Linked DNA regions of Homo sapiens. The protein of the gene in region 1 interacts with the protein of each later gene in a pairwise test. Each region holds a gene or a part of one and is shown in the gene's direction. Other genes may lie near its edges. The genes, in order: ELOVL5, GOSR2, NINJ2 and THSD7A.

What was found.
Region 2: the proteins of ELOVL5 (region 1) and GOSR2 interact in binary tests that used the Homo sapiens proteins (3 or more experiments, as listed by UniProt).
Region 3: the proteins of ELOVL5 (region 1) and NINJ2 interact in binary tests that used the Homo sapiens proteins (3 or more experiments, as listed by UniProt).
Region 4: the proteins of ELOVL5 (region 1) and THSD7A interact in binary tests that used the Homo sapiens proteins (3 or more experiments, as listed by UniProt).

The regions. Positions count from the first base shown.
Region 1 is NC_000006.12:53,268,937-53,275,965, reverse strand, and holds part of ELOVL5 (very long chain fatty acid elongase 5), read left to right. Parts: intron 1-704; coding exon 705-876; intron 877-2,621; coding exon 2,622-2,746; intron 2,747-5,238; coding exon 5,239-5,373; intron 5,374-6,695; coding exon 6,696-6,839; coding exon of another isoform or gene 6,840-6,853; 3' UTR 6,854-7,029. UniProt on the Homo sapiens protein: Catalyzes the first and rate-limiting reaction of the four reactions that constitute the long-chain fatty acids elongation cycle.
Region 2 is NC_000017.11:46,926,143-46,933,171, forward strand, and holds part of GOSR2 (Golgi SNAP receptor complex member 2), read left to right. Parts: intron 1-3,377; coding exon 3,378-3,442; intron 3,443-4,956; coding exon 4,957-5,065; intron 5,066-5,924; coding exon 5,925-6,057; intron 6,058-7,029. UniProt on the Homo sapiens protein: Involved in transport of proteins from the cis/medial-Golgi to the trans-Golgi network.
Region 3 is NC_000012.12:563,778-569,456, reverse strand, and holds the end of NINJ2 (ninjurin-2), read left to right. Parts: intron 1-3,278; coding exon 3,279-3,507; exon of another isoform or gene 3,508-3,852; intron 3,853-4,055; coding exon 4,056-4,222; 3' UTR 4,223-4,240; intron 4,241-4,775; 3' UTR 4,776-5,161; downstream 5,162-5,679. UniProt on the Homo sapiens protein: Its role in unclear. In contrast to NINJ1 paralog, does not mediate plasma membrane rupture (cytolysis) downstream of necroptotic and pyroptotic programmed cell death.
Region 4 is NC_000007.14:11,829,188-11,836,728, reverse strand, and holds the start of THSD7A (thrombospondin type-1 domain-containing protein 7A precursor), read left to right. Parts: upstream 1-4,530; 5' UTR 4,531-4,782; coding exon 4,783-4,972; intron 4,973-7,541.

The DNA.
Region 1 (7,029 bases):
CTCCGGTTAACAATTGGCAGGAAAAATCACATGCAGTCAGTATGTTATATTTACACAATCAGGATCATAAGAGCAATGTCTTAAATTTTTAAAATCATTCATCCAAGTACTTTTTTCCGAGTAGTGGTGTTAAAAATAAAATCTGACTTCCACTCATGAGGTTTGTTTTAAATCACAGGCCAACAGTCGCAGCTCAGCATGGGCAGTCATCTCCTTAGAGCACTTGTTTGACATGTTTAATTGGGCAGAGACCTGACACTGCAGGTTCTGATTCCTTTTCTTCTGTGTCACTTATCAGGTCGGCTGCTCCATGTTAGTCCCTGAAATCAATAGCGTTTTTCAGATGGTTTTCCTTTGCTAATGGCTGTGCAGGCTGCTTCCAGAGGGAATAGGCAGACTTCAAGGTTTTGAACCTTGAGCCTCATGTTTTTGTTAGTCTCAAAGAGTGTCAGGGACCCTTTCAAAAATATTCCCTGTAGTCATTTCAAACCCCTCCAGCTGTCCCAACCCAATCATGTTCTTTGGTTAAAGGTACTTGGAGAGTGACCATAGCTCCCAGCCACTGATGGACATTAAGAGCTCTTGGGGCACTCGGGCTTCTCCGAGTTGACATCAGATTTTTGGATATTAGTGAAACATGTCAGAGGTGATATTCCAGAGAAGCCGTGAGGATAAGCCTTAAATCTTTGACCCTTTCCTCTTAGATTATCCGTGTCCTCTGGTGGTACTACTTCTCCAAACTCATAGAATTTATGGACACTTTCTTCTTCATCCTGCGCAAGAACAACCACCAGATCACGGTCCTGCACGTCTACCACCATGCCTCGATGCTGAACATCTGGTGGTTTGTGATGAACTGGGTCCCCTGCGGCCACTGTAAGTATTAGAGACGGGGACTTGGGGAACAGGTGTGAGCAGGGAGGAGAGTTGAAACTAAGGCTTTCAGAAAAGGTGCTGTTTCTGTAAATGTCTAGGTCAGGCTTTCAGCTTTGTGTTCAAGTTGCTTTTAATGATAGTTTATGTACCTATGCACACAAAACCCTTTTTTAGTTAAGTGAACTTTCTGTGCTGATTGGGTGAGATGAGGGAGATACCACTGGGGACATATTAAGGAATAGGTACAATATTCTCTGACTTAGAGGGCAACTTTCCAGGTTCTTTCTGGTCCTTCTGTATGGTGTGGAAGGTTTGAGACGGGCAGGTGAGGAAAATAGGATCACACTGTTGCATGAGTACCAGGGAGCAAGGCTCATTTTGAAATACAGCTTTAGCTGTCATGCATTAGGAAGTCTCCACATGTTCTAACAACCCTCATATTCCCTGAAGCATGGTGATCAAGGTGTCTTCTATAACGAGCACCAAAACTTGATATAAATTTTCTAAGGTTGTACTTGGTTTTTGGAAAGCTTGTAGTCCAAAGTTTCTTATAATTTTCAGAGATTGCCACCTTCAGATTCAGCCTGGGAGTTTTAGCAAATGTCTCAGTCAAAAGTCCCGTCATCCAAACACTGAAGAATTTAACTGAGAACCTATGGGTCTATTTATGGATATTTTTTTCTCTGGGATAGCACTGCCCTTGATTACCTGAGCCTGCTAAGATTCACAGTGTCATGGAATTCCAGAGCTAGGAAAAAAAAAAAGCTTTCCAAATACAGATCCTTTGGGTTTGGGAGGAAACTAAGACCACAGAAAGGTGGGTAGAGTTGGGGCTTTCTGCTCTTCCTCCCACTGTCAGAGCTCATGATGGTGGATTAACTGACCTAACTTTCTAATAGAAACAGCCCCTCCCTACATTTGAAGAGTGCTTTAAATTTTCAGAGAACTTTCAGGAGGACAGATTTAATCAGCTCCACTTGGGCCATGAGAAACTGAACCAGGGAATGGATGTGATGTGTCCAAAGTCAAAAGCCAGTTCCTATCATAGCCAGGAGTAGAAACTTCCCTAACACCAGGCTGTGCACCTGCAACTGCACAGGGAAAAGCCAGATGGCTTGGTTTGGTTGCTGACTGTTGGGGAGGAGGACAGAGTCTGGAAAAAGAACTAGTGGTCCTACTGAACATTGAAAATGATGTGATAAGATGGCTCTTTTATCTCTAAGGAGCTAGACTCTTGACTCTATTATTAATAAAAATGTATGACCTCAGCACTGCAGTCCTGGGAAATAATTAGAAGATGGCTTCAGAGACCTCTCCACACCCCAGCAAATGTATAGAAACAACCATTTTTGAGCATATTGCCCATCAGCTGTCTTCCACAGCCTTCAGAGAGCATATTTGGGCAGTTGTGCATGTAAAGAAAAACAGCTGTCTCTGAGAGTGGGTGGGCATCTGCAGCAAAGCCTGTAGGTGCTGGGATGGCGTCGTGGCTTCAGTGTCAGATGCCCCTCTAGCAGCTACAGCTGACCCCTGGGCTCGGAGCCTCCTGGTGGCTGCCTGCCCAAGTGGAAATTGAATTCTCATTACACATCCATGCATTGCTTGCTGTTGCAGTGTTTGTCAGCTCCGTTGGAAGTCATCTCTCTTTCTGATTCAAAAAGAATCTTGTATTTTTTTTTTTTTTACCACCTGTTCTGTTTAAAACACTAATACATTCTCCTTCCCAAATCCCTCTGTTCCTGCAGCTTATTTTGGTGCCACACTTAATAGCTTCATCCACGTCCTCATGTACTCTTACTATGGTTTGTCGTCAGTCCCTTCCATGCGTCCATACCTCTGGTGGAAGAAGTACATCACTCAGGGGCAGCTGGTGAGTGACTTGGCCTCTTTCCCCAGGACTTACTTCCTGGTGGATACAGACCTCTTCCTGGCTTTAGTGTTATGTAATAGCATCTAAGATGCCCCTTCTCCACCCTTTTTCATTTGATGTAATTAAATTCCTTGAAGTGGGTAGATTAGGGAATTTTCTTGTTTTGAACTGATAGTGAACTGTGACCATGGGCATACAGCTAGTTGAATTGTACAAAGAGGTCTAGAATCTAATTTGCCAACTTCAAGTTCAGCTCTTCTGAGTTTTTGCACATAAGCACATATGCATGTATGTGTGTATATGTGTGTGTGTTTTCTAATTATAGTCCAAAATCCAAAATGAAAATTGTATGTTTCCAGGGGTTTTAGAAGGAGCTGGAGAGTAGTATGGAGTCCAGGGTATGTGTAGCCCATTACTAGGCAGCAAGGATATTTGTTTGGCAGGTATGGATGACCCCTCAGCCCCCATGCAGTGGAGCACCTGTTGGTGAGGATGGCAGCTGTTTGCTTCAGTTAACAGCTCCTCCCCTGGTTTACTGCCAGGGCCAGGCCACTTCACCTGATACTTCTCACCATCCTTGATTAAGCCTTCTGCATTCATCAGTATATTATAGGTAACCTCTTTCTCTCCTCTCATGAATTCGTCTATGAACTAATTAATACTACTACTGCTCATATTAAACACTGACATTTCCTAAGTGTTTAGCACATGTTGGGTACTCATACTAAGTACATGATTTTACATAGATTGTTCCAGTAGCCTGATTTCATATTATTGTCCCCAAGCCAGGCACAGTGGCTCACGCCTGTAATCACAGCATTTTGGGAGGTCGAGGCAGGAGGATCACTTGAGGCCAGGAGTTTAAGACCAGCCTGGGGAACATAGTGAGGCCCTGTCTCTACCAAAAAGAAAAACACATATTATTGTCCCTATTTTATAGATGACACTGAGTCAATAGGCCAAAGCTAGCTGACTGAGGGGTGTGGACATTAAACCCTTTGCCCTGTCCTTGCATTATTAACACATTTTTCTAAACACACCAAGCTGATTCAGATCCCTTCAAGTCAATTATGATTTTTCAATATTTAAAAATAACAATCTGAAAAAAAAGTCTGAGAAAATCTTAGAGACTGAAGTGTTTGATGTTTCATTTTCACCTCTCTGCCAGCTGCTATATGGTCCTTGTTAATTTTTTCTCACCCACCTGTGAAAAAGGAAAATTGTTGATTAACCTCCTTGTTATACTTGAGGAGAAATGATGCAGAAATTGATTTATACCACAGTTTTGGGTCTGGCGGAAGCAGAATTTAAAAGAACAGACTGGCAAAGTTGGTCTCCCGTTAGGCTCTGTACTTTGAGGTGGAAGATTAAACCTACCCAGGTTGTCAGGATTTATTTTAAGCACCACTCCTAGTTATTCCTCAGTCTGCAGTACTAACCTTAAAAAAGAGAAGGCAAACAGCCAGGCACAGTGGGTCATGGCTTGGAGTCCCGGTCACTCGGGAGGCTGAGGTAGAAGGATCTCTTGAACCTGAGAGTTTGAGGCCACCCTGGGCAACATAGACCCTGTCTCAAAAATTAAAAACAAAAAACTCTACATAGAAACATTGGAGCTGCTAGAAATACAGTGTGCAGAGCCTAGCCCTTTTTTTGGGGGGAGGGGCAGGGGTTGAGCTGGAGTCTCGCTCTGTCACCAGGCTGGAGTGCAGTGGCGCGATCTCGGTTCGCTGCAACCTCTGCCTCCTGGGTTCAAGCAATTCTCCTATCTCAGCCTCCCAAGTAGCTGGGACTACCGGCGTGTGCCACCATACCCAGCTAATTTTTGTATTTTTAGTAGAGACAGGGTTTCACCATTTTGGCCAGGATGGTGTTGATCTCTTGACCTTGTGATCCGCCAGCCTCGGCCTCCCAAAGTGCTGGAATTACAGGCGTGAGCCACCACGCCCGGCCTGAGCCTAGCCCTTTTTAAAACATCTTTCCACCATTTCTCTAACCAGTTCACATGCGTTTCAAGGTTTATTCATCAAAATTAATCAATGCACTTAGTGTTGTTTGCCAGTAAAGGTTTAAATCTACTCATCAGCCTTCACCAAACCAGAAGCGTCCATGGATAAGGAGTTGGAAGGATGTCCAGCCAGGTGGCACATCCTGCAGTGATGTTATCAGTGCCCTTTCAACATACACACTTGCTCTTCCTTCTCAAAAAATAAAAACAAAAAGTCTTGGATGTCTCTATAGTGTATCCTTGAAATTTGGAGAAGGTAGTTTAAATAGCTTGGAGGGCAGAGGAAGAATATATATAAGACAAACACACCTAGAGTTTAGGATAAGTATAGTGTATGTGTTGTGTTCATGAAGTGACTGCTGTACCTGCAGCAAGGGTAGTAAGTGTTAATTCAGAAATTTAGGTGATGCTGGTTAAAAAGTCTGCCTGGTGTGGGGCCTCGTCCATGCACTGTCCCTGTTCAGCTGCATCCCCTCTGTTCCCCTAGCTTCAGTTTGTGCTGACAATCATCCAGACCAGCTGCGGGGTCATCTGGCCGTGCACATTCCCTCTTGGTTGGTTGTATTTCCAGATTGGATACATGATTTCCCTGATTGCTCTCTTCACAAACTTCTACATTCAGGTAAATCTCACCCTTCTCTGGGACTTGGAATCTGGGGCCTTTACCAACAAAGGCCCTCATCTATTTACTTAATGGGCATGTGGAGCCCTTGCTGGGTGACAGGCTCTGGCCTCTAATGGAGTCACTATGACAAGAGCAGCCCCTGCCTCTGGGGGGCTCACAGCTCACTGGAAGACACTAGAATCCTGTTCTAGAGCCTGGGTGAGGAAGTCTTGGGATTCCCCTGGGAAATGGAAAACTGTGCAGCAGGACCCTATGTTGCTTCCCTCTGACCTGCAGCAGAGACGTGAGAGGTGATTTCAATCAGAAATCTCTCAGTTCACTACCCTGAACGTCATGGCCAAATGAAATTTCAGAAGAGATTTTTATCACAGTCCTCAGATATGGAGATCTGCTTTTTTGTCCCAGCTTTCTTATACATTCAGTCTTCAGGTGTGAGGATTCGGTTCATTCCTAAGCATATGATGTGGTGATGTAGGTCTTTGCTCACAGAAAGATCCATTTAGGGCAGATAATTTCCAGTGGAGCCTGACCACGTTGCAGCCACTGCTGATTCTCCTGCCATGCGTCACCCCCCAGATGACATGTGTCCTGCCTTTGTTGCCAGTGCCTGGTAGCCATAAGGCCTGCTGATCTGGGCAAAACACGGAGGTCAGGAGCAAGGGCAGAGGCTGCAAGTCCCGAGGCTCAGACATTTGTCCTTTCTTCTTCTGTGCCCACAAGCACCTGTGTGTGGCATGTTGAGTTTCAGTGGAAGTCATATACTTCTGGGCTTCATAGTTTATGGCTGCACTGTGGGACATACACCAGCTACAAGGAAGGTGAAAGGATAGGACCCGATGAAGCTGAAATCACATTTATTCTAACTACTTATAGCAGCATAGCACTTTGTTCATGAAGGCTGAGATAGTCGCCGAGGCAGTGAGGAACTTTTGAAGACGAACAAGGGATGTGGGTGTCAAGAGAGCTGCTGCCAGGTGGGAAAGACCAATTTGGCCACATAACCCCTGTCATCTGCCATCCAGATACTAAAAGGCAAAGCAAAGTGTAAATTGAATTTTCTATGTGACATTTTAAATAGTATTTCTGTTGCAGCCTGTGATTCAGTTAACTTACCTCAGGCTAAGCCTCAAAAAAAAAAAGGAAGAATGATTGAAACCAGTGACAAAAGATTTAGTCAATGAGGACTTGACCTCAGGAGTTTCTCCTTGATAAGATTTGATCTTGAAACTAGGCCTAGTGTTAGGGATGCAATTCTCAGTAAAGTTCCCTATAAAGAAAACTGTGGTCATTTGGTTCTCATCTGCCCTTACACATTTTAGACCTACAACAAGAAAGGGGCCTCCCGAAGGAAAGACCACCTGAAGGACCACCAGAATGGGTCCATGGCTGCTGTGAATGGACACACCAACAGCTTTTCACCCCTGGAAAACAATGTGAAGCCAAGGAAGCTGCGGAAGGATTGAAGTCAAAGAATTGAAACCCTCCAAACCACGTCATCTGATTGTAAGCACAATATGAGTTGTGCCCCAATGCTCGTTAACAGCTGCTGTAACTAGTCTGGCCTACAATAGTGTGATTCATGTAGGACTTCTTTCATCAATTCAAAACCCCTAGAAAACGTATACAGATTATATAAGTAGGGATAAGATTTCT
Region 2 (7,029 bases), on another chromosome or scaffold:
AGCTTAAGAACTATTACCTTATCTCAAGACCATGTTTTTCCTTTATAGATTTTGCCCTTTAATGAGCGAAATGTAAAGGCAAAGTGAGTGAAATGAAAATGACCAGATTGTTGCCACTACTTTTAAGTAAAGTTAACAACAAACTTACATGATGCTGTGTAGGTTACACAGCGTTTTCATGTTCATCATGGTCAGAGGCAGCCTGGATGCAAAGTGGATGTTATGGGGTGGTGGGGGGCGGTGAGTAGTTTCATGAACTTTTAAAAAGCACTTCCATTAAAAAATTCTTCCTAGATCTTCTGTAAACCTTTTTTAAAGACGGCTACAATGACCCTGGCTTATTTGCTACTATTTCTCTGCTTTGTTATATTATCACCCAAGCCCACCATGGACCCCATGCTAGAGAGGGCTAAGACTTCTTTTTCCTCATGTCCACGCTCCCAAGTCATGCTTGTGTATCACCTGTTTCTTATGGACTTCCAGTGTGTTATGTTGTGTTAGAATTCCCAGTTCAGTTTGAGACAGATTTTGCACTTGGCATATTAGTAGTTCCCACCTTGCCATTCATACTTGCTTTGTTGTTTCATATTTATGTTTTCTTAGCATGAAATGTAGCCGCTGGAATTGTATTATTGGCCACATTGTCTCTGATTGGTTCAAAGCAAATAGAGATTTGATGGGAAAAGTCAGTGGATTATGGGCCTGTACAAAAGTGCTTTGATGAACGTCCTGCCATGTACATCTCCTCAGGGTATGCCAGAACCTCTCTAGGACACATTCCTCAAACTGCTGGGTCATAGCATGGACACATGCTTTATTCTACTAGTTATTGTCAGAAAGCATTTAAAGTGTTTTACCAATTTATAATCCTACCAGCTGGGTATGAGAGTTCTAGTTTCCCTGTTTCCTTATTAATGCATATGTCCCCAAACTTTAAAATATTTGTCAGTTTGATGGGCTGAAGAAATGTGATCTCATTGCTTTTCATTTGTGTTTTCCTAGTTGAGTGTCATTTTGTATATTGATTGACCATTTGGGTTTTCTTTTCTGTCATTTGCCCTTTTTTCATTTAAAAAAAATGCCTTGTTTGACTTTTTGTATTGATTTGTAACAATTCTTTATATATTTTCTGCACGTCAATCCTTTGTTATCTGCTGCAGATACCCTCCAGTCTGTGCCATTCATTTGTTTATTTTGTGGCTTTGGTGTACAGAAGTTTTTTGTTTTCATGTTGTCAGATGTATCCATCTTTTTCTTTGTGGTTTGTGGGTTTTGTGGGGGTGGGTAGTTTTTGGATTTTGTCTTATTTAAGAAATCTTCTGTAACCCGAGGTCATTTATGCACACCTGTATTTTCTTCAGAAAGTTTGAAAGCTGCTCTGCTTTTTCCATTTGGGTTTTAAGTGAGCTTGAGTTTATTTTTATGTGTTACCTGAGGTGGCCTTTTTCTGTACGGGTAACAAACCGGAGCTGTTGGCATTTATTGTAGTCCCTTCTTTCAAAAGCTCCCAAATAACGTGGGGCTGTGTCTAGGCTGTTTCTTTCCTCTTGGGCCAGCTGTAGGGTTTGCCTTTCCTTGTCTGTCTGCACCTGCACTGCCGCCATATTGTTTCCATTGTTACTGCTTTGTAAGTCATAATGGCAGGTGGGACAAGTCATTCCTCCCCCTCCTTCTTCAGAGTGGTCTTGGCTATTCTTTACCTCCCCCCTTTTTATTATGTCACTGTTCGTGTTGATCATATTACCAACTTTCAGATTTTTCTGTTAAATCAGCATTGAAAATTTACCTCACAGCCTGCGTCAGGACTTCCTTAGAGTCCTAATTCTCCTTTCTGTCCCCGTTACCCTCCGGTCCCCTGTACCTGTTCCCTTGGTTGCCCTGCTTCAGGTGTCGGCTACCTCAGGCTGCATTCCTACATCAGCCCCCATACCTCCACACCCCCGCATCATCCCACAATATCCCAGACTTACTTTCCGGAAGCAACGGCCTGGTCTCGGACTCTAGCAGTGATTTCTAGTTGCTTCTCAGGGCCACAGGTCTTGCCTAGGAGCACCCTGGGGAGTCATTTGACAGCTCACCCAGCTTCTTTTGGTGCCCGAGGGCATATCTGGAGGCCATAGGGAAGCCCTGGAAAAGACTGGGCACAAGCTGAAGCCAAAGTTGGGTGCCTGGCTGGCATTGGTAGATTTGGGGTCCTGGTTTGCATTGCTCACGATGCAGAATGGTTGCTGACCTTTCCTCCAGCGTTGGGGATGATGTGAGAGTCCAGCAGGCCCCCTTCATGTGGGCCCTAACTTGGGGAAATCTCCACCGTGAGCACCGGGAAGTGGATGGTGGGGCCAGCATAAGCAGTATCCCGAGGACTGATCATGGAGGACCATTAGGAAGGGGGTCTTAAGGATGACCTTGGCCAGACCGTGGGAAGCCTCCAGAGAGTGTTACCCAGATCCAGGGTACAGTGTTGCATTTCCAAATGAGATGGCAGTTCCTTCGTTCCTTGATATTGTCGGAGAAGGATGTTTACCAAACAGAAGGTCCCTGTCTCAGGGTCTTCCTCTGAATGGTTTCCTCCAGTGAGTCACTTCAGCATCCTCTCCCCCAACCCGATTCCCTTTCAAGCAGCCCACCCTACTTGTAATCCACATGTCTTGAATGAATTTTTGCATATCATTTTCTTCTATCTTCCTTCACCAAATGATGTCTCCCTTCTTCACAGCGATGCTCAGAACTCTTTCCATCCACATAACTTACCTGGTTTCTCTTTCTCAGCCCCACCCCTCTGTCTGCTTGCCTGTGACACCACTGTGCAGAGCTGCCCCTCTTTCTGTTTGTTTATACTTATGTGTATTGCTTTTCTCGTGAATCTTCCCAGGGCTTGTTCATGTCTGTTTAGCCTGTCATTCCTCATTATGTTGTTTCTCAAGGACAAGGATTATATCTCCCTCGCCCTTTGACTCTTCCTGGTACAGGCCAGTGCTTAGCACATTAGGTCGTAGAACAGAAAGTAGGATTGGCCGGGTTCAGTTTGAGGTTTATCACTTGCTGTGTGATCTTGAACAAGTTACATAACCTTTCTGGGCTTCAGTTTTTATAAAATGAGGATGATAATGGTACTTTCCTCATAGGGTTATTGATTTGGCAGAGTATCTTGGATATGGTAAGCACCCATAATCTGCCTATCAGTGTTATTGTTAGTAGTTAAGATATTAGAAACCATGCCAAAACGTGGGACCTAAAGTGCCACATACAAATTTTACAGTTCAGTGATGCTGTCGATTTAAATCAGTTACATGTTGGCATCAGAAAAATTGTCTTTCCTGACTGAAGCGCTGTTGATTACTCCTGTCTCACTCATTTCCTCCCTCTTCCTTTGATAGGCAGGTCCACGAGATCCAGTCTTGCATGGGACGCCTGGAGACGGCAGACAAGCAGTCTGTGCACAGTGAGTAATTAACTGTGGAGACCAGAGTCCTTTCTCTGATGACAGGGTGCTAATGGGCTGGGCTTCCTGACTGCACTCTGCCTTGGGGGCTTAATGATTCAGCGTGGAATGAGTTTTGTTGTTAGGGTGGACAGAAAAACCCTATGGCAAAGTCACTGATTTCCCTGAGTGTGCCCTTTGGAATCCCACAAGTCTTATCCCCCATTACCCCTCCACTCAACCTGACATGGCCCTATGGGAATGGAAGCGCTTGCCTCCATCTATCTTAATCTAATTACCTAGTCCTTAGAGGAATGTACTCCATAAAAATTCAGAGATGTTTAACTGGAATTGGCCATTTCTTCTGAGCTGAGAACTGTGGCTTTTTAGGAGGATTATTCAGAAACGAACAGCAATATTAATTAGTTTAGTTCCCACAGCATGGTTTCTTTTGAGAAGCATGCTGGTTTTTTGTTTTTTTTCATTTTTTTTTTTTTTTTCTATTCTGAGGAAAGGTCCTTTTTCTGAGTTGGTCATATGGACACCACCTGCGGGGGCTGCCTACCCACCCCACTGCTGGGCTCCCTCAGGACCCATTCCTCCTGTTCTCTCATGTCTCCTTTCGCAGCTTCAAAAGCAGCTCTGTTCTTGGTTCTGTGCCCCACCTTGTTCTAATCTCAACTGTCTTTGTTCACTGTGGGCACAAAGGGCTAGGAAGGGGCAGTGTCACTGCTGTCACTTCTTTATGGGGCAAGAAGCAGTCTGGATGCTTTCTTTTGTGCACAGTTTAGCTTCTTTGTTCATCGGACTTTGTTTGCCTTCTCAGCAATCTCATTGTTACATGATTAGAAATGGAAAGAGGTCATTTTGACTGTCTTATCGAAAGGGATAGGGAAAATGACCGTATTTATCGTATCTCTTTACCTCTGTGGATTCTTTCCTGGGCCTTTCCTATTGATATTTGGTTTATTTTGGGGACGTCAACATTGCTCAGCCCACCCATTCTTACAGAAAGCTTTAAGGGAAGAAAGCCTTAAGGGAACTCTTCTCTGTATGTTTCACATACTAATCTTCCCCTTCCTTTATGCTTTTTTTTTTTTAAATAAAAAAAAAAAAACTCATTACTATAGGGAATTCAATTGGCAGCCTTTTTCTAGGTATTTATAATCCACGTCTGAGAATCCCAAAGGAAAAGAGACCTATATCAGAAAATTTAGCTTAAAGTATTTATTTGGACAACCTTTGCATGTTTATTTTCTAAAGGTAGGAAATTTATTTCTACAGATTTACCTTCAGCTTTTTTAAAAAATTGGCATTGTTATGTCATTAACAGCTATATACATGTACTTTTTTCAAAACAACATTTACGGCCTAACTTGAATTTTTTCTGTTATTCATTAGTGTATACATTTTTCTCCTTTTGAAATATGTAGTTCTAGTTTATTGGATATTGAAAAAAAAATCTGTGATTTATCATTGTAATTTAAGTTCACTATCTCTTTTCCAGCAATTATTCTTTTTTCTTTTTTGTACAGTAGTAGAAAACGAAATCCAAGCAAGCATAGACCAGATATTCAGCCGTCTAGAACGTCTGGAGATTTTGTCCAGCAAGGAGCCCCCTAACAAAAGGCAAAATGCCAGACTGTAAGTGCTGACCTCTGACATGGCTCTGATACTCCAGGCCCATCAAGACAGGCTTTTCTCCCTGGGGGAGGTGATAGAATATTCTGAAAACCAACGTACATGTTGAAAAACTATGACTATGCAAAGAAAAAGCCCCCTCAAAGGGCACAATTCTATCTGAGTGATGCCGCTCAAAATAAATAGCCTGTGAGGTTTGTGACTCAGAAACCTTGTGACCCCTTACCTCTTTGGTGTCATTTTGAAATTTTGCCTCCAGTTCTGTTTTTTGACTAGATCCATAGCCACCTGAAGCCTAATGTTGCCATGGAGTTTTGTTCTGCTCTTTGGTTCCTGCTGGGTTCTTCTTGGGTTGAAATGAAAAATCACTTCAATCAGTCCACCCATAATGAAATGCTGATCTAATGTTTGATACTCCAGCATGAAATTAAAATGAAACCACCCTTGCCACCTCCACCCCCAGCGCCTGTTTCCAAAAGTTTTATGAAACTTTGTGGATGCTTTACCTCAAAGATGCCCTTGGGCTTCTTCCAGGAGAGCCATATAATCCATAGAAGGTCAAGAAGAGGTCAGTGAGCCTGCTTCCTGTCCCCTGTTCTCTGTCATGCATCCAGAATCAGAGCAACAGATTCTGAAGTCAAGCTGCTGGAATCTTGTGTGCTACCATCTCACTTTAACCACAAGTTTCTTCTTGACTTTCAACATCGTTGATCAAAATTAGATCTTGTGGTGAGGGGGTATAGTGTGGGGTGGTGTAGGGAGAAGTAAGGAAACGCCGTCTTTCCTCAGTACAAAGCCTGGCCCCCTCAGATTCTGCTGCCCTGAGTTCCTGGAATTTAATCTCTCTCTCCATCAATTCCAGTCGGGTTGACCAGTTAAAGTATGATGTCCAGCACCTGCAGACTGCGCTCAGAAACTTCCAGCATCGGCGCCATGCAAGGGAGCAGCAGGAGAGACAGCGAGAAGAGCTTCTGTCTCGAACCTTCACCACTAACGTAAGCCAGGCCCGTGGTGAGGGTCGGCCTGCACTTGACAGATCGTGGGGGCTGGAGTTCAGATCTCTGAGCGCCATCTGTTTTGGGGGTGTCTGAAGAAGACTGATGATGAGGAAACCAACTGGAAATGACAGGAACTTTGTGCATTGCCACAGAGACTAGACCTAGACAGAGAATCCCTTTTTCTAAGACAAAAACCTGAAGAGGAAGCAGTTAAATTGAAGGGGAATAGGCAGAGGTGAAAATTACCTGGTTGGGCTGGTCTGAGACAGAAAGGTGGAAGTTCACATGGTGGAAACGTTTTTCTGATCAGATAGAGACAGATGATTAGAACTTAGGCCATTTGTAGAGAAGGCAGCATTTCAAAGCTGCCTGCGGGCAGTTGCCATTGTGCCGAGTATGTGTGTGGCTCCAGTGTCAGGTGCATTAAGATGTTTTTGCCCCTAGTCTGAGCAGCAATTTGGAGGAATTTGTTAACAGATGTTTAGGGTTAGATGGACTGCTTGCCTGAGTCTGTCTGAAAGTGTGTTGGTTTGCATGTTTGATTTTTCAGAACCCATTGTCCCTGCCCTTTAGTCTTAACCAGATCATTTCCTGCACATGGCTGTAGAACATACTGGCCTTTTCTGTGTCCTGCATAATATATTCCACTAAATGAAGTGTGCTTTGGCTTTTTGTATTTTGTTTTTTTACAGAGGATTATTTTCTAAAGAGATGTTAGCTTTCTAAGCCAGTTGTTAAAATTCACATCATTTCCTGCTTTGTAGATGTTTAACCCTCAATGCTGCATCCTTGCTTTGCAATAAATTTTCCCAAGTGTTTCAGGCTGTGCCAACATAGTTTTTGCTTCCCCAGACTAAGCAGTCAAGTTACAGTGTTTAACAGTTCAAAAATTTAATGAACTATAAGACACACTAAAAGATGTTTGGATTTTAGATCGTTATAATGTAGTATTCAGGCCTTTTTTAGGCC
Region 3 (5,679 bases), on another chromosome or scaffold:
GCACAGCCATGGGGCAGGGAGGCCAGGGGGCACAGTTGAACCTGGGCAGAGACACTTTGAATTTGGGTGCAGGGGGTGAGACTCTCTTGCCTAATGAGTGCTCTTGGAGACCGAGGACAAACCTTCACCAAATGGGCTAAGACCACAGGTTGCAGCCTTGGGGCTGACGGCGACCATGGGCCTTTGTGAAGTGTTGGCCCTGGGATCCCTGGCCCTAACCAACCATGCCAGCTGGCCCTAGACAAGCCAGCCTTGCTTGAACTGGATTTCCAAAGGCCCTGAACGCCGTGTGTGGCCTCCCAAGTCCATGCAGGTCCTCATTTACCCTCCATCCCTACCTCCTCCAACCTCACTGGCTGCCCCCAGCACCAGCTGAAACCCCGGCCCCAGCAAAATCAAACACGAAGGAAGATGGGAGAGATAGTGAGCACTCCATTCCTTTCGTGCCTATGGCCTTTTTTCTTATTTCTGTGGGCCCTGGGCCCCAGCCTGATTTTGGTGGCTGTCAAAAGGAGTTTGCCAGGGCCTGTTGTGAGCAGCCTGTGGCCCAGTGCTTACCCGGGGGGCGGGGGGGGGGGGGTGTCCTCACAGCCCCAAGCACCGCCTGGCATGTACAGTCAATCTATTGAATGAATGCTACCCGCTGGTCTCCATTCTACTCTCCCAGAGAAAGTGTTTAAATTGCTCCACTGGCCAAAGTGCACACTCCTGATTACCCTCTGTGAGTCCTGCCCCGTCCAGAAGTTGAGGACACTCGGAATCTCAATAATGAACAACCCAGGTGCAGGGAACTGCCCCGTGTAGAAAGCTGATGGCCTGGAGTGTGGTCAGAGTGAAAGAGCCACTCCTATATGTTTGATCCTCCAATGACTGGTCCACAGAGTCAGAGAGGGGCAGCCTGCGGGGCACAGGCTGCCAGGGTGGATTCCATCAGAGCAGGTGCTGTTAGCACCCATGACCACCCTGTGCCTCTTGAATGTGTCTGTGTGTGTGCACCCTCCTGGCAAACAGAGCAAAGGGCCAGGAGCTTGGAAAGGAAGTGAGAAGAGCAGGGTGGAGACGTGGGGCTGAGTTTTGAAGGCAAACGTTAGGAGAAGGACTGGGGAAGAGAGGCTCCCTTCTGTTGGCCTAGGAGAGGATTGGTCCAATCTGTAGCCAGGCATGTGGATTAGAGCTGGATCTCCAAAGACGAGTGCCCAAGACCATATTTTAGGATAAGAAAATTAAACTTCTATTTATATTGAATTTTATGTAATCCTTTCAAATGTTTCTACTTTTGCATATTTTACTATATATATAATTAGTCCAATAAAAATATGTATAGTTGATAATGGAAGAATGTACATATATTGAGGATGCATGGCCAAAACAGTTTTTAATGCTGAGATTACACTATCAAGAAAGTCTGGAGACTACTGCATTTCAGAGTTTTGTTTTTGTTTTTGTTTTGAGACAAGAGTCTTACTCTGCCACCCAGGCTAGAGTGCAATGGTGCGATCTCTGCTCACTGCAACCTCTGCCTCCTGGTTCAAGTGATTCTCCTGCCTCAGCCTCCTGAGTAGCTGGGATTACAGGCGTGTGACACCATACCCAGCTGATTTTTTTGTATTTTTAGTAGAGACGGGATTTTGCCATGTTGGCCAGGCTAGTCTCAAACTCCTGACCTCAAATGATCCCCCTGCCTTGGCCTCTCAAAGTGCTGGAGTTACGGGCATGAGCCACTGCACCCAGCCTCATTTCGGGGTATCCTAAGGGCTCATAGAATCCAAAGGTTCTGATAGATAGGTAAATCAGTTAGCCTATGTGTAAATCAACTGTCCTCTGTGTAAATCCCTGAGGTACAGAGAAGTGAAGTGACTTGCTGGGGCTGCACGAAGTACAAGGAACATTCCAGACCCTCTGAGACCTGCCTATCCAATCATCCACGCATCCATCCATCCACCCACCAATCTCTCCATCCATCCATCCATCCCTTCATCCATGAAGCTTTATTTTATACTTCAAAACAAAATCAAATGTAAATTATGCTTCAATAAATCCTAGCCAAAAAAATTAAAAACAAATTACGAGTGTTTAACTGGTATGCATCACTGTGCATATATAGGCACGCATCCATCTATCCATCCATCTGTCCCCACGCAGCAGGTATCTGTCCTGTCGTGGTGATCTGCTGGGTCATCTTCCCTACCTCCAGGCCATAGCATCCTTCAATCCATCCGTCTCTCCCCACTCTGCAGGTATCTGTCCTGTCATGGTGATCTGCTGGGTCATCTTCCCTACCTCCAGGCCGTAGCATCCTTCAGAGTCCTCCATTCCTTCCTGTCTCACCTTGCTCCACTTCAGTTCCTTTTCACCCTGATCCTAAATCAATACTATAACTTTTAAATGACTCTCCCTGCTTCTAGCCCTTCCTGGCCCAGTCTGTTCCAAGCACCACTGCTAAATCAATCTTCCAAGTACTCTTGAGTGACTGCAGATTGCCCTTGGTCATGGCGCCCAGTCTGAAATTCTTGGCCCAACCCAGAGGCCCACAGCATATGCCCTGTATTGTGATTCTGTCTTTTGGAGTTAGTGGCTTCTGGAGAAGCTTTAGTAAATTATGCTTCAATAAATCCTAGCCAAAAGTAATAATTAAAATGATGTGAGTGTTTAACTAGTATGCATTACTGTGTGTATACACTCATGCATGCATGCATGTGTATGCTGAGAGCCTGTGTCTGACAGCGTGTGTGCCTGAGCAGGGCGGCAGCTCCAGTGCTCCTGAGGGTTGGAAATCCAGCCGATGATCAGCTGCTGAGCTGTGCACCCTGCCTTGGGGGCCACAGCATTATGCGAGAGGAGGTGCCTTTCTCTATTTCACCCAAGCCTCCAAGCTCTTTTTATTGTCTTCTCAGGTGCTTTCCTCTCAGAGGAAAAGAACACAGCCCAAAGCTGAGGCCTGGCCCAGGTAAAATAGTGAATAGGGTGAGGAAGGTGCATTTTACCAGCAGCAGAGAACCCTCCCGGCTTTCTCCAGCCAGATGTGTGAAGGTGTGAGGGAAGGGGTGACTCTCCAGGAAGTATCAACTGCAACAGAATGTCATTTCAGAGTGCAGAGGTCCTTATGGGTTTTCTCGTCCAACCCTTCATTTTATCAGGCCATGAAACTAAGGGTGTCATTTGCCCTGAGCTTCCCATCTGGATTGGAAAGAGCTTTAAAACCTCTCTCCTCTCTCCCACCTCTCAACTGCTTCCCTTCCAGAGCTCCCCTTGGTAAGTCTGTGCTTTCTCCCCTACAGCCTGGAAGCTCCGACCCCAGGAGCCAGCCCATCAACCTGAACCATTACGCCACCAAGAAGAGCGTGGCGGAGAGCATGCTGGACGTGGCCCTGTTCATGTCCAACGCCATGCGGCTGAAGGCGGTGCTGGAGCAGGGACCATCCTCTCACTACTACACCACCCTGGTCACCCTCATCAGCCTCTCTCTGCTCCTGCAGGTGGTCATCGGTGTCCTGCTCGTGGTCATTGGTGAGGAGCCCAGCCTGCAGTCAGACCTTCTGCCTCGGCACCCGTGGCTGGCAGAAAGGCCCCACGTGTCCCCTGGGCCACCCTGCATTGGCACAGGCAGCTTTGCAACCACACGCTGACCTGCAGTGAGCCCTCCGCTAACAGAGGCCCAAAGACCAACTTCCACCCCGCGAGGGCAGGCGCCCTGTCCTGTCTCCTGGTATCCCATGGAGCAGACCCTCCGCAGTACCTGCTGAATGACTGCGCCAGCACCTCGCTAACTGCTAACTCACTCACTCGCTCACCGCTTCTCCATGAGCACTCGTCCCCACGCTTACAGGACCCAGCTTAAGTTCCCAAATCCTGGTGGGATGAAGCACACTAGGGTGCCCCATTGTACTGGTTGGCGAGGGCAGAGGCATCTCAGCCCGATGACGACCACCTCCCTTGATTTCTGCCACATGGGTTTCTGAAGGGCCCCTCTCTCCAAACTCTGGTGGGTGTTGTGGGGGCAGCTCCGTGCTGTGGCCCCGTCTCTGACCCTTTCCCCCCACTCCACTTCCCTGCAGCACGGCTGAACCTGAATGAGGTAGAAAAGCAGTGGCGACTCAACCAGCTCAACAACGCAGCCACCATCTTGGTCTTCTTCACTGTGGTCATCAATGTTTTCATTACAGCCTTCGGGGCACATAAAACAGGGTTCCTGGCTGCCAGGGCCTCAAGGAATCCTCTCTGAATGCAGCCTGGGACCCAGGTGAGGGAGGATGGAGGAACCCCAGCTCCAGGGACTCCCCAGGTGGCCCTTCTCTCTCCTCTGGGGCTTTGGGGCAAGAAACAGATCCCTTGCCAAACAAAGGGGGAAGGCCTGTAGCTCCGAGAGCAAGGAGAGGATCTGCAAGAGCCTGGCCTCAGCGAGGCTTGCACAAAGCCCCACTGCTGTGTTAATGGCTCTCTGCTCTCAGGCTCAGGTTTTCCCACGGTCTGGGACAGGGTGGAGGCGATGCCATTAGTGGTTGACTCTGCCCCTCCGGCAAGAGGAAAGGTGGAGATGGGGAATTTCTCCCTGCCATTGTCTAGCAGCTCTTGCTACTGACTGTGGTCCATGGGTCAGCAGCATCCACAAACCACCCAGGAACTTGCTGGAAATGCAGAATCTCAGGCTCTGCTCGAGCACGTGCTACAGGCACGTGCATGAGTAACGTGGCCAGGTGCATCCTGGGCATGCTGAAGGTTGAGGGGCATTGATCTGGCCTGCCATCCTCATTGCCTCTTCTCTGCTTCCTCAACAGGTTCTGGGCCTGGAACTTCTGCCTCCTTCCTCCGTGATCTGCCAGGCTCGTGGGCACTTTCCACAGCCCAGGAGAGCTTCTGAAAGGACAGTATAGCTGCCCTTGCTCCCTACCCACAGCACCTGAGTTAAAAAGTGATTTTTATGTTATTGGTCTAAGGGACTTCCATCTTGGTCTGAAGTCCTGAGCTCAGACGCAGGTACTGCCAGCCATACCTTCCTGGTAGCATCTGCTGGACCTAAGTAAGGCATGTCTGTCTAAGGCCAAGTCTGCCCGGCTTAAGGATGCTGGTTCTGACTCTACCCCACTGCTTCCTTCTGCTCCAGGCCTCAATTTTCCCTTCTTGTAAAATGGAATCTATATCTATAAAGGTTTCTTCAAATCCACTCTTGAGTCCACTTACTTGTCTAGTCCTGCAGGCTCAGGCATCCAGGCTGGTCTCCATCTGTGCCTTGGAGAGGGCTCAAGAGAGCAAACCCCAGACCTGGAGGGTGGGAAGGCTTTTAAATTACTTCCTCCTCTGTGGGTTCTGCTCGGAGCCAATGTTCCTGGCCCAGATGTCTTGCGCTTATCGTCATCTGCCCCATGAACTGTAGATTAGTCCATTGCAGGTGGATGCACATATGCACAATCTTCTCCACGAACCTGCTGTAAGCTATTCTGGCTTTCAGTCTCAGCTTCCCTTAGGCATGTGTTTAAGGACTGCAAACTCATTTTGATCTTTGCCTGGGCCAAATATAACGAGGAAGGTAAATCTGTAAAGCATTAGCAAAGCATTGCCAACTCAGAAACAGAAATGATTTTTAGAAGGTCTGCCAGTTTAGAAGCAGCCACTCGTTGGCTTCTCTCCACTGCTCACCAAACCGTTCTGGCCCTATATCTAGCCTTCTCCACCCAGCGTATC
Region 4 (7,541 bases), on another chromosome or scaffold:
AGATTTAGTACATTCTGGAGGGCCCTAGGATTTTCAGAATGGTAAGTAAGCATTGGCTTCAACTTAAAATCACCAGCTGAATTAGACCCTAACAAGAGAGTCAACCTGTCCTTTGAAATTTTAAAGCCAAGCATTGACTTCTCCTCTCTAGCTATTAAAATTTTAGATGGCATATTCCTCTAATAGAAGGCTTTTTTCATTTATGTTGAAAATTGATTGTTTAATGTAGGTACTTTCATCTGTTTATGTTGAAAATTGTTTAATGTGGCTACTTTCATCAGTGATCTTAGCTACATCTTCTGAGTAGCTTGCTACAGCTGCTTCACCTTGCAATTTTGTTGTGAACATGGCTTCTTTCCTTAAACCTTATGAAACAGTCTCTGCCAGCTTCACACTTTTCTGCAGCTTCCTCATGTCATTTGGTCTTTACAGGTTTAAATAGAATTGGGGCCTTTCTCTGGATTAGGCTTTGGTTTAAAGGAATGTTGTGGCTGATTTGATCTTCTATCTAGATCACTAAAGCTTTCTCCATATCAGCAATAAGGCTGTTTTGCTTCCTTTCATATGTGTATTTGCTAAAGTAGTACTTTTAATTTTCTTCAAGAACTTTCCTTTGCATTCACAACTTGGCTAACTGGTGCAAGAGGCCTAGCTTTTGGCCTATCTTGGCTTTTGATATGCCTTCCCTAATAAGCTTAATAATTTTAGGCTTTTGATTGAAAATGAGAGACTTGTAATTCTTCTTTTCACTTGAACGCTTAAAAGCCATTGTAGGGTTATTAATTAGCCTAATTTCAATATTCATATGTCTCAGGGAAAAGGGAGGCCCAACGAGAGAGAGATAGGGAAACAGCCTGTTGGTGGAGAAGTCAGAATACACAACAACATTCATTAATTTAGTTTGCTATTTTATATGGGCACAGTATGTGGTGCCCCAAAATAATTACAACAGTAACATCAAAGATCACAGATCACAGATCACCATAACAGATAGAATAATAGTGACAACATTTGAAAAATTATGAAAATTACCAAAATGTGATAGAGACATGAAGTGAGCACTTCATGTGGGAAAAATTATGTTGATAGACTTGCTCAATGCCAAGTTGTCACAAGCCTTAAATTTGTTAAACAAACAAACAAACAAAAATATGTGTAAAGCACAGTAAAATGAGGTGTACCTATAAACTTGGTGGGTGGGTGTCAAGGGAAGGGGAGGATAGAAAGAAGCCCAAAATAAATTTTGTCTCATCCAAATCTTGGTCAAGTGTGACACCTAGAGGTTGCACAAATAGAATTCCTTTGGGTATTTTTTATTTTTTAGGATGCAAAATGCATTTATGTGGAGAATTATTTTTAAGTTTTTATTTCAAAATGGACATCTTTAGATATTTCCATATGTAATACTATCAATAAATAACTATATTTCTTCACTTTTTTATAATTATAAAACTGTTGATGTTAAAAGTTGTTTCCCTTTCCATCAAGGAACTGAATATTTCATAATTGTTTTAAAATATTGATACTAATGACTAAAAGTCATTGTCATGAGTCTCATGAGTTGTAATATATATTTATATGTTTATGTTCTAATAAAAGAGAAAACAGATGTGTATAGGTATGTTCACATCCTTACCTCTGGAGTTTAGAAATGATAGCAAAATTAATAGAGGCAGAATAAAGACACCTATCACATGAGAGGTGATAAGTTTAGAATTTTTTCATTTCTAAATATTAAAAAAATATGCTTTGCATTTGTCATTCATTGGTTTGGAGAACTTTTATCGCACTGGCTCATTAATATTTGAACAGTTCTCCATGAAAAATGACGAACGATTTACTTCATGGCAGGCTGTACAGATGGTCAATTTAATCTGCATCCTTGAGACTTCTCATGACTAAATTTTGACATCATGTCATTAAACATTTGTGTATTATTATTTATGTCATATTCTAGGAAACAAATATTGCTATGTCTTGCTATCTCTTGCCATCTATCAGTTTTATTGATAGGATTTATCTACCTAGACACTATACCTTTCACAAAGGAACACATATCAGGATATATACATCACTTTTGTCTCCTCAGAGACCCATACATTTTTGTCCTCAAGTGCAATAATGACATTGTTATGAACAAATGTGTGGCAGGTGTGGAGACAAATGTTTATATGACTTGGATTCTCTAACCTTGTTCAGAGATATCTTTGCTGATGATTGTGTGTGTTTGTGTATGTGCATGTGTGTGTGTGACTCCTAGGCCTTGTGTACGTTGAAATTGAAAGAAGGAAACCAAATGTTGGCTATTTTGAAACAGTACTGCAGAACATATCACCATAATTGTGTATTGTAAATGGCAGCAAATTGGAACCTAGAAATTGACCCCGTATAATGCTTGAATTTGTAGCTATGATGTTTACACTCTTGACAAGTTGAGTTATTATTATACCACCATGGGTAAATATAAAGGTCAGAATCTTAAAATTTCTTTTGACAATAAGCTATTAAGTATAGTGTCGGATGGCTTTTTGAAGGGCTAGGTAAATGACCTTGCACATTAACTTAATTCCTCAGACTCTCTGTCCTCTGTTATATAATGAATTCCCACTTGGTGAATTGATTGGCGCTTCCCACGAATGCGTAGAATGGCTGCTGTTAGCAGAGTATGTCCAGTTTGAAATACTTCCTGTGCCAGAGTTAGAGGATTTCAAGGTTTAGGGCACTAACAGTAGCTGAGAAATACAAGCAGAAAGGATGGGAAAATGATTCCTTGTGGAGTGGACATGGAAATTTTCCTGAAACGACAGAACCCAGGAAGCAATAGCAGGTCCCATTTCCTTCTGTGGTGTAACTGTCAAAAGAAGTGATCCTTCAGGGAACCATACATTAGTTAAGATCAGGCTTCCTTTTTATTCCTTATCAACCTATAATCTTTTGATTGTTGCCTGTTTTTCACGAGTGAAGAAATAGTAAGCCACACTAGCTTATCTCTCCTAATCACAGACTCACAGCGCTCGGGCTCTCTGAGCTTTTAATTCCTTCTTAGAGGCCTAACAGAGCGGAAAGTAAACAAAGACCAAATTTGCAACCTTCAACGTAGCTAATTTCCTCTGATGTCAGAATACTTAAACAGGCAGGACCTGGGAATTATTTGATCAAACCCGCTTTTAATCTAATGCATGCAGAGGGGCTGTGTCTGGAAGGCTTTGCAAAATGACAAGGGTCCCAAGGGAGCCTTATGGAAGGTTTCCTCTTTCAGAAAGAGTAGCTTCCTCATCTTAAACTCTAGGGTAGCTATGTTGGAGTAAATTCATAAAAAGTAGTTTTCCTGCTTTTAAAATTTTATTTTATTTGGCTGAAAATTGCTGATGGGATAGTAGTTTTCTTTGGCTTTCCGTTTGCTGAATTTTTAATGGTTAAATGCCTACTATTTTAGCTTTACTGTGAAATGAATTAATAATAAAATATATTATTATTAGCTAAAGGGAGAAGGAGAAAGGGGAAAGCATTATCCGACTTCACACACATTCTTCTATTACTACTGGTAGAAGAAAGTGAAAACACAAAGGACAAAAGATGCAAACACATGTGGTTCCTTATTTAGATTGCGACAGGCATTTTGCTACAGTAAGAGTTAAGAAAAATCGGTGTCAGGGAAATTTTAAATGAAGAATTTACTAATTCCAAGATATCCAGACAGCATTACTGACTCAGTTTGACTCACAACTATCTGAATACTTAGAAGTAGCATATTTTTGAGGGAAAGAAGTAGATGAAGGGACAGAACTCTATACCTGAAATATAATTTTAATTTTAAGGGTTTTTTTTTTGTACAATTGTATTTATGTAATTAGGTAGCATTGCAAATACTCATTAACACTAATTCAGTTTTAAAGGCTATTAAAAGACAATTTAATTTGTCACAGAGCATCAATATTGCTCATATTTTTATTGATAATAGATTAAGTTAAAAACAACATTTAAAGAAGGGTTTAAGTGCATTTTGACAAGTCAACATTTCTGCTCTCGTGTTTTCACACCTGATCTCAAATACTGCTCCCCACACAAAGTAATTCAGAAGCCATGGCTTAAAAATAGATAATAAACACTGATGCTTTGTGTAAATACGTACTAAGAATAGCATGCCACTAGATCTAGCATTTGACTCCTTGGATGACAGTGAATATCAATGCCTGTTATTTGTCATTCTGAAATCTGCCGGGTGATGATTCTTTTTATTGGTGCATCCTTCCAAACATATTTCATCGCACCATGTGCACCGGAGTTCTTTAGGCGGGTATGTCGGAGGTGGGTGTCGCCTGGCTGGCCCCTCTCCCCTTTGCTCGCCCCCTTTCTCGCCCTCGCGCTCTCGCCTCCCTCTGCCTCCAGCCCCCTCTGCTCCTTTGGGCTCACGCCCCCCTCCTCCCCCTCCAGCTGGCGGGGGCTGCGCTGCCTCCCAGACCTAGCAGACCTGCTCAGTCAGCTGGGGCCCCCTGAGGACAGTTGCCTCCGGAGCCGCCGGGACCTGCCATTCTGCGAGGAATGGCAGCGGCAGCAGCATCCCCGCCAGAGGCGGCGGCGGCGGCGGCAGCGGCCACGGCCACCACCGCGGACGCTATTGTTCCCTGGTGTTAGACGCGCTCTCCCTCCTTCTCATCTGAAGCGAACAATAGCAGGAAAGAGCTTTGCTTTCTGTACTCTTTGAAAAGACGTTCCAAGAGCGGAGAAAAATTCCCTGCCGAGCGTGCTACGGCTCTGGACCCTGGAGTGGCTGCAGGCGGCATGGGGCTGCAAGCCAGGCGCTGGGCGTCCGGGAGCCGGGGCGCTGCGGGGCCGCGCCGGGGCGTCCTGCAGCTGCTGCCGCTGCCGCTGCCGCTGCCGCTGCTCCTGCTGCTGCTGCTACGCCCGGGCGCCGGCAGGGCTGCGGCGCAGGGCGAGGCGGAGGCGCCCACCCTCTATCTGTGGAAGACTGGTAAGTGGGACGGAGTTACCCTTTCCCCATCTTCACATCTGGGGCCACATTAAGGAGCTGGTGGGCTTCTGTAGGGACCCCGGTGCTTTTGGATGGCTTGGTTATGCTGGTATCCTAAGGTAAAAAGTATGATTTCTTAGGAAGCAAATAGGTCATGTCCGATGCAATTAGGAAAGAAAAGCATAACAACTAAGAGGCAACAGTGAGTAGCTGGAATATTTCTCTCGCAGCTCTGTAATGAGGGCAACGCGCACTTCCATGATGAAGTGCATTATTTTTAACCCCTGGATTTTCATTCTACTAGGAGTTTCTCAAACAGATTTCTAGCAAAGAACAAGCAAAGAGTTTAGTCTCAGTCTTTATTCTTTAGGCAAAGCAATATGCTCACTGTCATGACATTTGTGGATATAGAGTTGAATTTGTTAACTTTAGCTTTGTGATATGTGGGACACCTCAGAAACAAGCCAAGTGAGGGCGGTTCCAACAATTAAAGGCAAATGGGGCTCCAGTGAGCCTTCAGGGAAAGACTGAAAACTCAATTATTAACTAGCGAGTCGGAGGATTTTTAAAGTGTACAACTTTTAGGATGTCTGGGTTCAAACTTTCTCTTCCTTCCTTGAGAATTGTTTTGCTTTGTTTTTCAACCACCCAACAAAAGCAGCTACTAACTGCCCATCATTACCCATTGGCAAAATGCTTGGAGTTTCTGGCGGGGGCCGTGACAGGCAGGAAAACAATACGGAGTGAGGAATTACCAACCCCTTTTCTGCGGGTTCGCTTTCTCTCTGCATTAAAAAAACATTGAGAATTCCTTAGGGGACCTGAAACTTCACATGTTCATAGGAATAAAATGGGAAAAGATTATTCCTGTTGCTTAGAGCTAGGGGGTAATTTAAGAATAACTTGGTCATGCCAAACATTAAGAGAATGTTGTAGTTGAAAGGGAAAGTATGTATTCGTCATGGGGTTGCAAACAGGTTTCAGGGAGTGAGTGTCTTTTCCTGCTTCAGCCCATCTCTGCACCACTACTGAAGAGACAGCTCAGTCTACTCTACAATTGCATCACTATCGATATCTGGAATTTTTAAAGAAGTTGCAGCTATCCAGAAATTTAGTGAGGAGATTAAACAGAAATTTATTTAAAGTCAAAGTACACAATTTGTCTTAGAAGATTACATGAAACATATACACATTTTAAAAAGCAAGATTATTCTTGCTAACACCTTAAGTTTGAAGATCAGTTGAGTAATGAATTCAAATGAAATAAAATTAATTTACTTCAATTTGAAACGAAGATTTGAAGATCTCTAATTTAGCGTAAGCTAGGGTTTTACTTGTTAAAAGCACATTCATAATGACAAACATTAATCAAATTATAATTTACCATTAAATGGTATCATATGGATGCTTGGGGAGAGCTTCTTAGGTAAGTCAGTGTAGGATGAAATAGTAGTTGCCTAGTTGAAATTTATACTAGCAAAGTAACAAGAGCCAAGCAATAATTCAGATGGAAAAGAGCCCAGCCAACATTCACTGTACAGCATCTGAGGTGTCAATATATGTCATCATAAATGTCATGGTAGGAACACAAGCCAATAAACAGTTTAAAATAGTGGGAAGCTCTCAGAAACAATGATATGGAGACCTTGATTCCAGTGCCAGTCCTAGCTCTTGCTAGCTGTAGGAATTTTGGCAGTTCACTTAAATTTTGACCCTTAGTTTTCTCAACTGCATGTAAATGTGATGACACCTTCTTCTGCCTATCTGCAGTGTGTGAAAATCACATGAGTTATGAGAAAGTGATTGGTAAACTTCAAAGCTGTATGCAAATGTAAGCTAGTGTGATGAGGATGTTAAAGATATTTCTTGACTGGTGATCCTTGGTTTGGTAAAAAAAAAAAATAGTTCATTCAATTGGAAAGCAAAATAATGACTTCTTTATTTTTTTTTTTTTACCAAAGGGAAAGGAGACTTTAATATATCTGTAAAGGAGTTGAACGTAGTTCTCAAAAGAACTAGAGAATATTTAAAGAAAAAAGATATACCATAAATGAAAATTTAGAAGTTACAGAATCACTATGTGTGTATCACTTGATGAAAATAAAGAGGCAAGAAGGGAATTGGAAGAGAAAAGAGGTGACATACTCCAAAATATCTGTTCCAATGGGGTAAGCTTGGTCTTGGTACAGAGGATTATAGAGAATCATATTAATGGTGAGATTATTGAATTAAAATGATGTAGTGAAAGTTGTTACACTGGATGAAGATCTGGGACAGGAACTCAAACTGTGTATGTTACTAACATGCTGTAGAACTTTGGTAAAGTCATTAATGACTTTGGTTCTTGGCTTCCTATTTTGTAATACTCATTAAATAGATAAAATGATATCTAAGGGCCTTTTTAACCCCTAAAGGGCTTCATATATATGAATGCATATGTCAGATACATATATTATAAATACACACATAAATACATATATACAACAAATAAGGGTATATAAAGTTGACCCTTGAACAATGCACAGATTAGGGGTCCTGACCTACATGCACAGTGGAAAATTTATGTATA